2 linked regions of the Homo sapiens genome follow. The protein of the gene in region 2 binds, or shares a complex with, the protein of the main gene of each other region. Each region holds a gene or a part of one and is shown on either strand. Other genes may lie near its edges. The genes, in order: ARL1 and GOLGA4. A codon is read from its position in the direction of its gene.

Region 1 (5,449 bases), on a different chromosome or scaffold from region 2:
ACAATTGGTTCCTATTTTACAGATGAAGAAACTGAGACTCAGAGTAAATAACTTGCCTAAGGGTGATACAGGATGTAGGTGCTACAATCAAGATTCAAAGTCCATGCTTTGAGCTGAGCGTGGTGGCTCACACCTGTAATCCCAGCACTTTGGGAGGCCAAGGCAGGTGGATCACTTGAGGTCAGGAGTTCGAGACCAGCCTGGCCAACATGATGAAACCCTGTCTCTACTAAAAATACAAAAATTAGCCGGGCGTGGTGGCACGGCACCTGTAGTCCCAGCTACTCAGGAGGCTGAGCCAGGAGAATCGCTTGCGCCTGGGAGGCAGAGGTTACAGTGAGCCGAGATCGTGCCAATGCACTCCAGCCTGGGTGACAGTGAGACTCCATCTCAAAAAAAAAAAAAAAAAAAAAAAACAAAAGTCCATGCTTTATAATTTGTAATTACGGGCTTAGAATATGACAGTATGTGGCACAGAAATCAAATGTTCATTCACTTCAGCATCTGTGCTTTGATGTAGTGTGTATCTCAAACGGGAATTCTCACGCTTCTAAGGGCTTTGTAATTTATCAAAAGGAGGCCATCTTAGAAGACTGATTTTAATTAATTCTAAGTGACTTAAGTGCATGTATTGCTTTCATAAAATTTTTAAAAATAAAATACTAAGGCAAAGATCAGAAAGGACAAATATATCTGGCATATTGAAGACGTCTTTGTTTTTAATCAATACATATTTATTGAGTGCCTACTGTGTGCCAGGTGCACCACACTAGATGCAACGGATACTAACAGTAAATAAGATACGGTCCCTGCCCTCAGAGCTTACATTTCAACAGTTTAAAGTGCATCTCAGGTATTTCAGATAACAGAAGTAATTCTACCACTCTCAAATTTTTTTTTTTAATGCAAGACACAACACAATCATAGGCCAGAGTTATAAAATACAATGTTAGAAAGAAACGTTTGGTATCATTCGTCCAGATCCCATTTTACAGAAAAGAAACTACAGGAGTGGCCATTTGCACCTATGTTCTGATTTCAAGTTTGGTGTTTTACCCATTGCCAGGCCTCTCATAAAACAATATTCAGATTTGCCATGTATATATCAATATCCAAACGCTGGTAGTATACCTGTGCAGTTGTCTCCTGCTAGACAAGGACCATATAATTTATAGCTTATTTAAGTGTCCACTTTCTTTATCCCATCCTATTCTTTGTGATAAACCAGAGGGATCAGGCTTAACCAAGTGCTGAACTTTGGGGCAACTTCATGCCCTAGGATTCAAGATGGCCAGCGGCTACATGCCGGGTCTGCCTGCCAGGACCTTACTTCCCATTTTTTGCAGTTTTCCTGGACTGCCGGGAGGCAGCTGTACAAGCTTTATAAGCCTCAGGCTGTAAGTGAACTTGCTTTCTGCATTTTCCAGCCATGTGCCATTGACCAGGAGTGAACTCAAGTATAAATTGCAAAGGGCTACTTGTCAAGATGACAAATATCTATCCTACTGTTTCAACTATGAACATATTCTGAAATGCCATATGCCAGGCGCCATACCAGATACTAGGGACATAAATATGAAAAAGTCTTTGCCCCTCAGGAGTAATATTGGTTGTACTGGAACATTTGTAGCTGAAGGAAAATCTCCAAAAAAGATTTCAAAGAGACTAAAGTAGGAATGGGTGCTGGAGAATGAGCAAGAAGGGTGAGAGTCCCACGGGTGAAGGGAGAAAGCAGCAGAGAATGAATATAAGCCCGGAGAATGAACATAAATGTGAGGGGAAGAGGCCAGAGGCCAACACTGGAAGGACAGTGAGGGCCAAGAAAGGAACTACTAATGTTTCTGAGACCTGCAGGGAACCATGGTATTAAGCTCTCATTACCAGCACCTAATTTTTTAGAGGCTGGTTTTCCAACTTAAGTGAAAGAAATTCACCCTGTTTTTAGCAATTATGACGCACTATATTTACTTCTGTCACATTAGCTGATTCTGTGGTGGACTGGGTAATTTGAAAAGCTCCTTTGAACATGAATTGTTTTTAAACTTACAGTCTAGCAATAAGCCTAATTTTTAAAACAGAATGCTTAATTTCTCCCTGTACAATCAGTAAGATTTTGATTTTTAACAAGTTTACATGTCCAATTACATGTAGATAAAAGGAATGAAAACCAGTAAAGACACCTTTTATAATCTGAAAATAGATTTTTAAACCTTCCTTTAATGTGAAATTTTCTCTTTAATGTGTTATGAATTCTATCAAATATAACCATTTAGGATTATTTATAGTATGTCACTGATCACTTCTACTAGTATAGACAAATAAATTTATAAACATTATTTTGAATGTAACTAATTAGCATAATTTTATTTAAGAGTTAGACTGTGTTGTCAATACTGACATTTTTGGGAATATATAGTATAGTTTATGAGTCAAGCTTCTGAACCAAAAGTTTTACTTTGAGCCCTATTCCTACCTTACAAGCTAGCAGGTGACCTTGGGCAAGCCAACCTATTAGAACCCTGGGTTCACGTCCATACAGTGAAGACATCATAACCTGTCCTACCTACTTCACAAGCTTCCTCTACCGATCAACTAGATCAATATATGTAAGATTTTTTTTGACAACTGTAAAGTACTATAAAATGACACTTACAGATAAGTCAGTGAAGTTAACCATCAAAACAATATTCATGCCTATAACCAAAAGCTTTTAAACAAAACAGCTTAATAAAAAGTGGTCAGGTAAGCAAATAAAGATTATATTACACAAACTATGTTCCTCACCTACTCTCATACTGAGTCTAATCTTTGGAAAGATAATTCATTTTAAGGGGAAAAAAATCTGTTAAGATATTTTTTAGTATTTATACAAACAAGCTGCAACTACTATTCAAAAATAGGTTTTTTTCATCCAATAGGAGTATACTCTTTAATAGAACTGTATTTGAATAAGAATTCCATACAAATAGAATATATACCTTAACACAAGAAAGCAAGAAAAGAATATTTTACATTACATAGAACATTCAGGTGATTCGATCAAATTATCCCTCCAACTAAATACTTATTTTCCCTATTTACTACAAATATTGCAGTCAGTCAGTATATGCCAATAATCATATAGTTTTAACATCTAGTAGTGTGAAGTACACTTGACTGTTTCCAAAGGGAGAGAGGTGATGTAGTCTTCATTTCAGGGGAGAAGAATGGACTGAATTACTGTCTGCTTTTTAATGTTTCAACTAACCTGTAAAGAGAAAATGAACTGTTTTATAAAATTAATTTTCAGGTATAAAGCATGATCATCTATAATAAACTTTGTATTGGAGGTGGATTCCAAAGTACTTAAAATGATGACAGCTAACACAGATGAGGTTATGCACTAGATATCCATAAGGTTCCTCTAAGCTTTGAATTTGTCTATGATTTGAATGAAAAATTCAAAAAAGACCAAATACCTATTTTCCAGGCTACTACTACTTCTGGGCTACATATGGATGACTCAGAGGTGAAACTAGTCTCAATCCTCAAGGAGGTGATTATCTAATGAGTAGATGAACAAATCAAACTTACAAGACAGCAAAACAAGTACTATGTCACTAATCTGTGACAAGGGCATCTAACTTTAAGTGAGTGATTAGGCAGTAGGAATAGAGATACATTAGGAAAAGCTCTTCAGAAGAGAGTCTTAAGCTAATTCCTGAAGGATAAGGAATTGGAGGGTGAGGTGAGGCAGGGAAAAGGCTAAAAATTGGCAAAGAATTTGCTTATCTAAGTAACTGTAATCAGGTAGGTGTGGTTGAGAAGACAGATGCACCTGAAGACCAGTGAGAGAAAACGCTTGAGGAACTTATGAAATAAGCTGCTAAGTAAATCAAAGTTTCATCCTCAACACGGGAGAAAAATTACACGTGGACGTGCATAGCTGCAAGCACACACAAATGCACAGATGGCTTCTGGAAGCATGATACTTGCCATTCCATTGCCTCATCAAGGCCGGTGCCTTTGGTTGCTGACGTTTTGAATATCTGCCATTTTCGGTCCTTCAAGGCAGGTAACCCAAGTGAATTTGCCATCTCTGAGGAAGTCATGGCCTGTTCCATGTCCTGTTTATTTGCAAACACCACTAAAATGGCTTTTCTCAGCTCTTCTTCCTAAATGAAATTGAAAATATTTAATTTCTTTTAACTAATGTGCTCTCTCGAGTTTAGAAAATGTCCAAAAATACATTTTAAACGTGTATTTTATAATTAATATATTACACATTATGAAATTATATAGAAATTATATAGAGAAGTATAAAGAAAAGAAGCTTCACTCATAATCCTACCTCCCAAATATGATCACTGTTAACATTTTAGGTGTTTTCTACTAGTACTTTGTTTTGCAGATACTTCAGAGTTTATTTAGTAAATACATTTACACATTTAAGATCACATTTATATATAGTTCCATACCCTGCCTAAAAATTAAAATCATGTTTCTCCAAACTACAACAACTTTTTCAAAATAAAAAAATGGCTAAATATGCTCTACACTATGGATGCATGCACCATAAACTGTGTTAACTATTTTCTAGTATCTGACTCTTATTAGAGTCTTTCCACTAGACTATTAGATAAACCCAAGTGACAGGGTCTTTATACAAAAATTTCTGTTTAAATCTGTTTCCTTAACACAATATTCTAAAAATGGAGTCAAAGTATGAACAGTTTTTTTCAGGCTTTGATAAACTGAATACATGCATGAACAGCTTTCCAGAAAGGTTACCCTACCAACAGTGTATAAAAGTCTCCATCTTCAATGCAGCCTTTGTAGAGTTGGGAATTATTTACTTTTCCAAACATAGCATCTCATTATATATTACTAGGGTATTCGAAATGCACATGGGCTGAGGCAGGAGGATCGCTTAAGTCCAGGAGTTGGAGACCAGCCTGAGCAACACAGGGGTCTCTACAAAAATTTTTTTAAAAAACAAACAAAAAAGGAAGCAGAGAGAGGAGCTCAAGGTTATAACAAGCTTTGGTTGTGCCACTGCACTCCAGCCTAGGGGACAGAGGGAGACCCTGTCTCTTTTTTTTTTTTCTTTTTTTAAGACAGTGTCTCGCTCTGTTGCTCAGGCTGAAGTTGCAGTCGTGCAATCTTGGCTCACTGCAGCCTCTGCATCCTGGGTTCAAGTGATTCTCCTGCCTCAGCCTCCTGAGTAGCTGGGACTACAGGTGCCCGCTGCCACGCCCAGCTAATTTTTGTATTTTTAGTAGAGATGAGGTTTCACCATGTTGGTCACTCAGACTGGTCTCGAACTCCTGACCTCATGATCCACCCGCCTCGGCCTCCCAAAGTGCTGGGATTACAGGCATAAGCCACCGCGCCCTGCTGACCCTGTCTCTTTAAAAACAAATGCAAATGTTATTAGCAATGTTTTTCCCCTACGAATTGCCTTTTGCTC
Region 2 (7,292 bases):
TGAGGCAGGAGAATTGCTTGACCCTGGGAGGCAGAGGTTGCAATGAACTGAGATCGTGCCACTGCACTCCAGCCTGGGAGACAGAGCGAGACTCCGTCTCAAAAAAAAAAAAAAAAATATGTTTTAACAACAAATACCTATTTTGGATTTTTAAACTCCTTAAAGAACTAAGTCAATAAAAGAAACATCAAGAAGTAATACAGACATTGTAATTTCTTGGGATATATGTAGTACATGAATACAAATATTTTAAAACATTTTTAGCCTTTTCAAGTACTTCTAAAACTTAAAAATTATAGAAGTATAGATACAAAAGGATGAATACATGACTCCACTTAATTGAGGTACCTAGAGTAGTCAAATTCTTAGAGACAAAATAGAATGGTTGTTGCCAAAGGCTGGAGAGAGGAGAGAATGGGGAGTTACTGTGTAGTGGGTACAGAGTTTTAGTTTGGAAAGATGAAAACGTACTGGTGATGGATGGTGGTGATTCCACAACAGTGTGAATGTAGTTCATGCCACTGAATTGTACAGCTACAAATGTTTAAAATGGTAAATTTTATGTTATGTATATTTTTAAAAAATCAACATATACGCCCCTCCTTATGCCTGCAGAATCATCCCTTATTTTTTTCCCTCAGCTCAGAGATGGCAGCTGACCTCACTCTTTTAGAGTGAGACCCCAAAATAATAGTTTATGTGATATAAATTTAAAAAATAAAAACAAAAAAACCAGCAAACAGTTCCACAGATAACAGGGAAAAGAGTCCTTTCTGAAGGGACATAGCCTTATTGTAAATCCAAGTTTACTAAATAGTTTCAGTCTTGAAATTGGGGAAAGCATGAGTCCCAGAGAAAACATTTAGATCAGAAGGTAGTTTATTAAGAACATGATGAAAGGCTTTAATAAGTTTGGTACCTAAAATATAAAGGTTTATTTGAAGAATTAACCCCAAGTTACTTTGACTGCTCTTTTAGAACTGGGATGTCAAATTGATTTGGCAGTGACTTACAACAGTGCTGTGATGAGGATTCAATGGCTGTGTCTCTGCTGTGACTAATCCATAGGTGTTGTAGGGAGAGTGAAATGAACCAGATGTTAGTTATGAACAGTGAATGCCTAGGTCCTCTGCTGGATGTTGCATTTGCTTTGAAGGGTCTATGTAGTCCCTACACAATGGAGTTGAGAGACAAGTACTTTCAGTGTAATAGTGATATATACAGGGTGTTGTAGTTGTGCAAAATAAGGCATTTCTGGAGAAGATCAGGGTGACATCTGAGTAGAGCCTTGATGGATAATGAAAAGTCATGGTATAGGGACAAGGGATTCAAGGCTTATTCCTAAGGATGACTGGATTAGTTTTCTAATATTGCATAACAAGTTACCACAACCTTAGTGCCTAATAACCCAGTTATTATTTTATAGTTCTGTAGGTCAGAAGTCTGGCATGGCATGACTGGGTTCTCTGCTCAGGGTCTTGCAAGGCTAAAATCAATATGTTGTCCAAGCTGCTTTCTCATCTGGAGCTCAGGATCTTTTTGTATGCCCATGTGGTTGTGGTAGAATTCAGTCCTTTCTGGTTATAGGACTGGGGCCTTCATTTCTTGCTGACCACTTTCGGCTTAGAGGCTACCAGCAGCTCCTTGCCACGTGCCCCTGTAGGCATTTTGCTTTCTTTCAGGACAGCAGAAGTACGTCCCTCTGCCCTCTAGACCCATATTTGAAGGGCTTATGTAATTAGTTTAGACCCATCCAGGTAATCTTTTGATGAACTCATGGTCAACTGATTAGTAACCTAGTAACCTTAAATATGCCTTTAAAATCCCTTTGCCCTGTAATATAACAATTATGAGAGTGATAGCTCATTATATTCACAGGGCAGGGGTCATTTGGGGTCATCTTACAGTTTTGCTTATCACAATGACTAAAATGGTTTTTCTTAAGTTTTTGTAGAGTCAGGGTCTTACTGTGTTACTCAGGCAGTCTTGAACTCCTGGCCTCAAGTGATCGTCTTGCCTTGGCCTCTCAAAGTGTTGGGATTACAGGCATGAGCCACTGTGCACAGCTAAAATGGTTTTTCTTACACTGAAATTGAGTATAACTGTGGTCAGTTAATAATTAGGCAGTGGGCAATAAAATATTAATTGTGGGTCTGGATGTAGCTGTCAGGTTTTTTGGTTAACAGCTTAGAAAGCTGACTCAGATTTCTTATGGCTATTGCAATTAATCAGCTCAAGTTTGGTTTGAAGGAACCTAAATCCCTTTATATCTTGAAGTGAGGATAGCCCATTAAGGAACCAGGCACCTGGGACAAATGCTGAAGTACAGTTAGTTCTTTATGCACTGTTATATACTTTATACTCACATCCATTTTCTCATATAATTCTTACTCTTGTAACTCCAGAGGAAGATCCAGAGGAAGATCAACAAGTCATCAGGCCACGTTTTGCCAGATAGTACTACTTTTCTAGGGAGAGTATGTTTTAGAATCTGTTAAACTTTGTAAACCCCGTTATTTGATTTTTTTGTCAGTTTCTCCAGAGCTGATGAGGCTCTCAGTTACTGATTAGACCATATGAGGCCAAGGTGTAAGACGTAATGCCAATTTTTCAGATTTGCAGTGAGGTATACTTTTTAAGCAGTTGGAAGGTCACTGTCTAAGGTAGCCCTTTCCTGGCATCTGGATATTTGGAAAGCTGAATTAATAACCCAGAGATTTCTTAGACATGATAGAATCACAACAGAGAGAGTTGATTAGTCAAGAGGTATTTCCTGTGGTCTAGTAGTACTTTTCTAACTTTTTACCACCCAGTGACCATTTTATTAAAGGAGTTCTTAGATATAATCATTTATAAATACATAGATACAAAAGGCTGCCCCCATAGTGGCAGCCTTTGAGGCACCTACAGCCTTTGAAGCTGGCACTGGCATGGTTTGCAAATTATGGCTCTAGGTGTGGGAAGGGTTTATTGAATTTATCTCAACTTTAATGAAAGCTATTTCTGATGTTCTTTGAACATTTGTAATTTGAACGTGGTGTTCAAGGTAGGCTCAAACTTATTCCAAGACTGAGACTAATACTACACAGTGACTGTGCTTTCCCTTGCCATTTTCTAAGTACAATGTTGACTTTTAGTCACATATTTTCTAGACATTTAAACCATTGCTAAGGCTTCAACTTTATTTCACATTGATTGATTTTCTTGTTTATATGCTTTTTTTTTTGAGACGGAGTCTTGCTCTGTCACCCAGGCTGGAGTGTAGTGGTGCAATCTTGGCTCACTGCAACCTCTGCAGTTGAAGCAATTCTCCTGCCTCAGCCTCCTGAGTACCTGGGATTACAGGCGCACAACACTACTCTTGTTCATGTTTTTAAGTCCTTATTCTTCCTGTTTTGTCTTTGGTGGGAGAGGATATGTCATCCCTTAAGGTGACTTCTGCACATAGCTAATTTCATCTGTTGTATTGATTTTTCTGGTTCATCTTTTAGAAGGTGTTGGAGTTCTTGGTTGTAAGCAACAAAAAGTCAATCTAGGTAAGCAGAAAAATAATTTATTGAAGACTCTTTACCCTACAGAATTTCCCTGAGGTCCCAAAAGTCTGAGCTGATTGCTACGTCCAGTTATACTGGGGAGACTACTCTGTGTTGCAGCTGCTTCAGCTTGGCACCAGCATTGCATCTGTCACTTCACAGCTTATATTTGTGTGGATGCATGAAGTTCTGTCTCCATTGTCATCAGATGATGAACTTTATTTGTATGTCTGTTTTTTCACATCACTCACTTATGACTCGAAGTCTCATGTGTTTCATTGATGGAGCTCAGGTTACCCTGTCTCAGATAAAAAGAAGATTGGGTTAGTAAGTTTTCTGAGTTCTAACTTACGGACTTATAAGAGCTGTTTATAGAAAAAAGGTTATTAAACTTTTGTCATATTTGTAGATGCTTTTCCTCACCTCCCAATTAAACTGCTGCTTTGATTTGTTTTTCACATAAAAATCTCTTTCCCATTCAGAGATTGTAGAAATAGACTCTTGAATTTTTTGTATTTCAATAAAAAAAATTAAATCTTTAATATAGCTTAAGTATGAAGGATCTGATTTGTGTGTCTTGCCCCATATGGATGGCCAGTTGTCCCAACATTTATTGAATGTCTATCCTGATGCAAAATGTTACTTTTATCATAAGCTAAATATGTATATGTCTGTCTGGATGTATATATGTGTATATAGAGTATGTGTATATTTGTATACTATTCCTCACGACCTCTCAGTTCCACCCTAACCACAGCAGTTTGTGCACGGATACCACAGACCAGAGTTCCATTTGTTTATTCATTCATTCATTTATTTGACAAATATTTATTAACTGCCTTTTGTAAAGTGCAGACTACAAAAAGAGGTAAGATATCATGACTCATTCATTTCTCAAAATAGATCTGAGTTCAGATCTATTTTGCTGTGGGTGTAGGGGGATTTCAAAATTTTGGTTTTATACTTTTAGGGTTGTTTTTAGCTCACCTTAGAGTAGACCCCAGACCTCTAGTTTAAATTTTGAGCCCTTTCTCCTGAGTTTTTTTGCGCTGAGGGTTATAGGAGTCAGGCTGTCAATTACAGAGCTAAATGGAATAGCATCTCAGTATTTAGCAGTGGTATTCAAGGTAGGCTCAAAGCAAGGCCATTAATTAGGTGGGCAAGTGCTGTTTATCTGTGCATTTCATACTATTGAATGTTAGAGCTAGAAGGTAGAAGGGATCTTAAAGATTGAATTGCCAGCCTTTTTTTTTTAAATGAACTTCTAATTTTGGAATAATTTTGGTTTATAGAAAAGTTCTAAAGATAGTGCAGAGAGTTTTTATATACCCCTCACCTGGCTTCAGTTTTCTCTAATATTATCATCTTACACTAGTATCGCAACTTTATTTTATATATGGAGACACATAGTCCTCAAAAAGTTCATGTAGCTAAGATCATAGTTCTAGTTGGTGGCAGAGTTAGGCCAGGGACCTAGTAGGTAGCCTGGGTTTTCTAGTTGATTATATTTGTTATCCTTTTCTGCTTTTCGTGTTTTTGCTCTTTTCCTTTCTTTCACTGAATTCTTTGGGCATGGACTGAGAGAAGGACTACCTAGTTCATAGTTCACTAGTCAATATAGTCTTGCTAATTTGTGCAATAATTTTTAAATCTAGGCGTCCTCCAATTCTTCAACACCAACAAGAATGAGGAGCAGGACATCTTCATTTACAGAGCAACTTGATGAAGGTACACCCAATAGAGAGGTAAGTTTGGAATTCCTTTTCTAGTATACCTCTCAAAAGAAACTAATCTAAAATGTATGCTGTTGATAACAAAATGGGAAACTTTTGACAGGTCAGCTATTTAATTCCTAGGTAGAGTTTTTATTAGTAACACAATTGGTCTTTTTTTTTTTTTTTTCACAAATAGCAGTTATGATTTATGTCTGTCTGTCTGTCTGTATGTATGTATGTATGTTTTTGAGACAGGGTCTGGTTCTGTCACCCAGGCTAGAGTGTGGTGGCACGATCACTGCACATTGCAGCCTTGACCTTCTGGATTCAAGTGATCCTCTAACTTCAGCCTCCTGAGTAGCTGGGACTATAGGCGCACGCCACCTGCCTGGCTAACGTTTAAATTTTTCGTAGACGGGGTCCCACTATGTTGCTCAGGCTGGTCTTGAACTCCTGGGCTCAAGTGATTCTCCCAATTATGCTTTATAAAGTATGGTTGTTGAGAACCTTAATTTGAGAGGATAATATGTTCTGGATTTAATAGTTGAAGTTTTCAGAATAATTTGATAAATTTGTTCAACATAGCATCATTTTTTCAAGCTGGTGAGTGGAAACTGAGAAGTAACTTATTTAACTTATTCCATGTAACCAGCAGCTGGCATTAAAACTCATTATTTCCCACTTTTTTTCTGTGAAGTGTAACACACATACAAAAAGAAGGTAAAACATAAATGCACGGGTCAGCAAATTATCATGAAGTGAATCCTCCCAGGTCAAGCAAAGGAACACTGTTAGCACTGTCGTGCTCCCTTTCCCCCTGAAGGATTACCACCATCCTGAATTTTTGGTATTTGCTTGCTTCCTTTTTTTTTTTTTTTTTAATAGTTTTACCTCTTAAATATGCTTTCTAAATGTAAACATTGTAGTTAAACATTTGGGTTGTCTACAGGTTTTGGCTACTATGAATTATGTTGCCATCAACATTATTGTACTTTTTTTTGGTGTACATGTACCTGCATTTCTGTTGGTATGTACTTTGGAGTAGAATCACTGCTCCATTTTAACACATAAGAAGATAATGCTGATGGTTTTCCAGAGTGGTTGTAGAAATTTAAATTCTCACCAGGAGCTTATGAAAGTTGCTTTTGCCCTATATTTTTGAGAGTCTTTATTTTTCTACTCTGTGTAAATATGCTGGAAAACAGTCTTTTTCATTTCAGCTGTTCTGGTGGTGGTCTTTCATTTTGGTTTTAATTTACATTCTCTGATAACTAACGAGATTGAGCATTTACATCTGTTTATTGCCCATTTGATGTCTTTTGTGAGTGCTTAAGTCCCTTGCCCATTTTCTATTGGATTATCTTTTTTTAAAACTGATTTGTAGGAGTTTTTTAAAAAATATAGAATACTAAGGAGTTTTTTGTTGAATATATATCTTGCAGCTATCTTCCACTCAGTGGCTTGCCATTCATTTTAATGATGTCCTTTGATGAACAGAAGTTCTTAGTTTTAGGCCAAGTATGGTGGCTCATGCCTGTAATCCCAGCGCTTTGGAAGGCCAAGGCAGGAGGATTGCTTGAGTCCAGGAGTTTGAGACCAGCCTGGGCAACAGAGTGAGACCCTGTTTCTGCAAAAATAAAATAAAATAAAATTAGCTAGGTATGGTGGCATGCACCTGTGTGGTCCCAGCTACTCAGGAGGCTAAGGCAGGGGCATTACTTGAGCCTCGGAGGTCGAAGCTGCAGTGAACCATGATTGCACCAGCCTAGGTGACACAGTAAGACCCTGTCTTTCAAAAAAAAAAAAAAGCCTGGTTCCCATCCATTTCCCATCCCTGACAGTACCTTCTATCTTAGAAGTTTAACAAAATGAGAAACCGCATAGGGTACAGGGAAATGATGAAAAAATTAATTTAATGTCCTTTTAACCAAAAACTTAATTATATAATTGAAAAATCCTTTATTTATTATAAAATAAGTTGAAGTAAGGTTTAGATTGCACTCTGTGGTCAAAGTACCTGTTAAAGTTGTCAAAAAAGCTTAAA

The links.
Region 1: the proteins of GOLGA4 (region 2) and ARL1 are in contact, whole or in part, in a crystal structure (PDB 1UPT), measured with the Homo sapiens proteins. Residues at the interface, in NP_002069.2 of Homo sapiens: Thr2173, Glu2174, Glu2176, Tyr2177, Lys2180, Val2181, Glu2184, Glu2190, Thr2193, Lys2196, Val2197, Thr2200, Val2201; in NP_001168.1 of Homo sapiens: Ile49, Gly50, Phe51, Gln64, Trp66, Ser73, Ile74, Pro76, Tyr77, Cys80, Tyr81, Ser83, Glu115 (codon at 4,148).

What each region holds. Positions count from the first base shown.
Region 1 is NC_000012.12:101,392,424-101,397,872, forward strand, and holds the end of ARL1 (ADP-ribosylation factor-like protein 1), read right to left. Parts: intron 4,155-5,449; coding exon 3,976-4,154; intron 3,248-3,975; coding exon 3,217-3,247; 3' UTR 693-3,216; downstream 1-692. UniProt on the Homo sapiens protein: GTP-binding protein that recruits several effectors, such as golgins, arfaptins and Arf-GEFs to the trans-Golgi network, and modulates their functions at the Golgi complex.
Region 2 is NC_000003.12:37,246,207-37,253,498, forward strand, and holds part of GOLGA4 (golgin subfamily A member 4), read left to right. Parts: intron 1-3,491; exon of another isoform or gene 3,492-3,536; intron 3,537-5,188; coding exon 5,189-5,278; intron 5,279-7,292. UniProt on the Homo sapiens protein: Involved in vesicular trafficking at the Golgi apparatus level. May play a role in delivery of transport vesicles containing GPI-linked proteins from the trans-Golgi network through its interaction with MACF1. Involved in endosome-to-Golgi trafficking.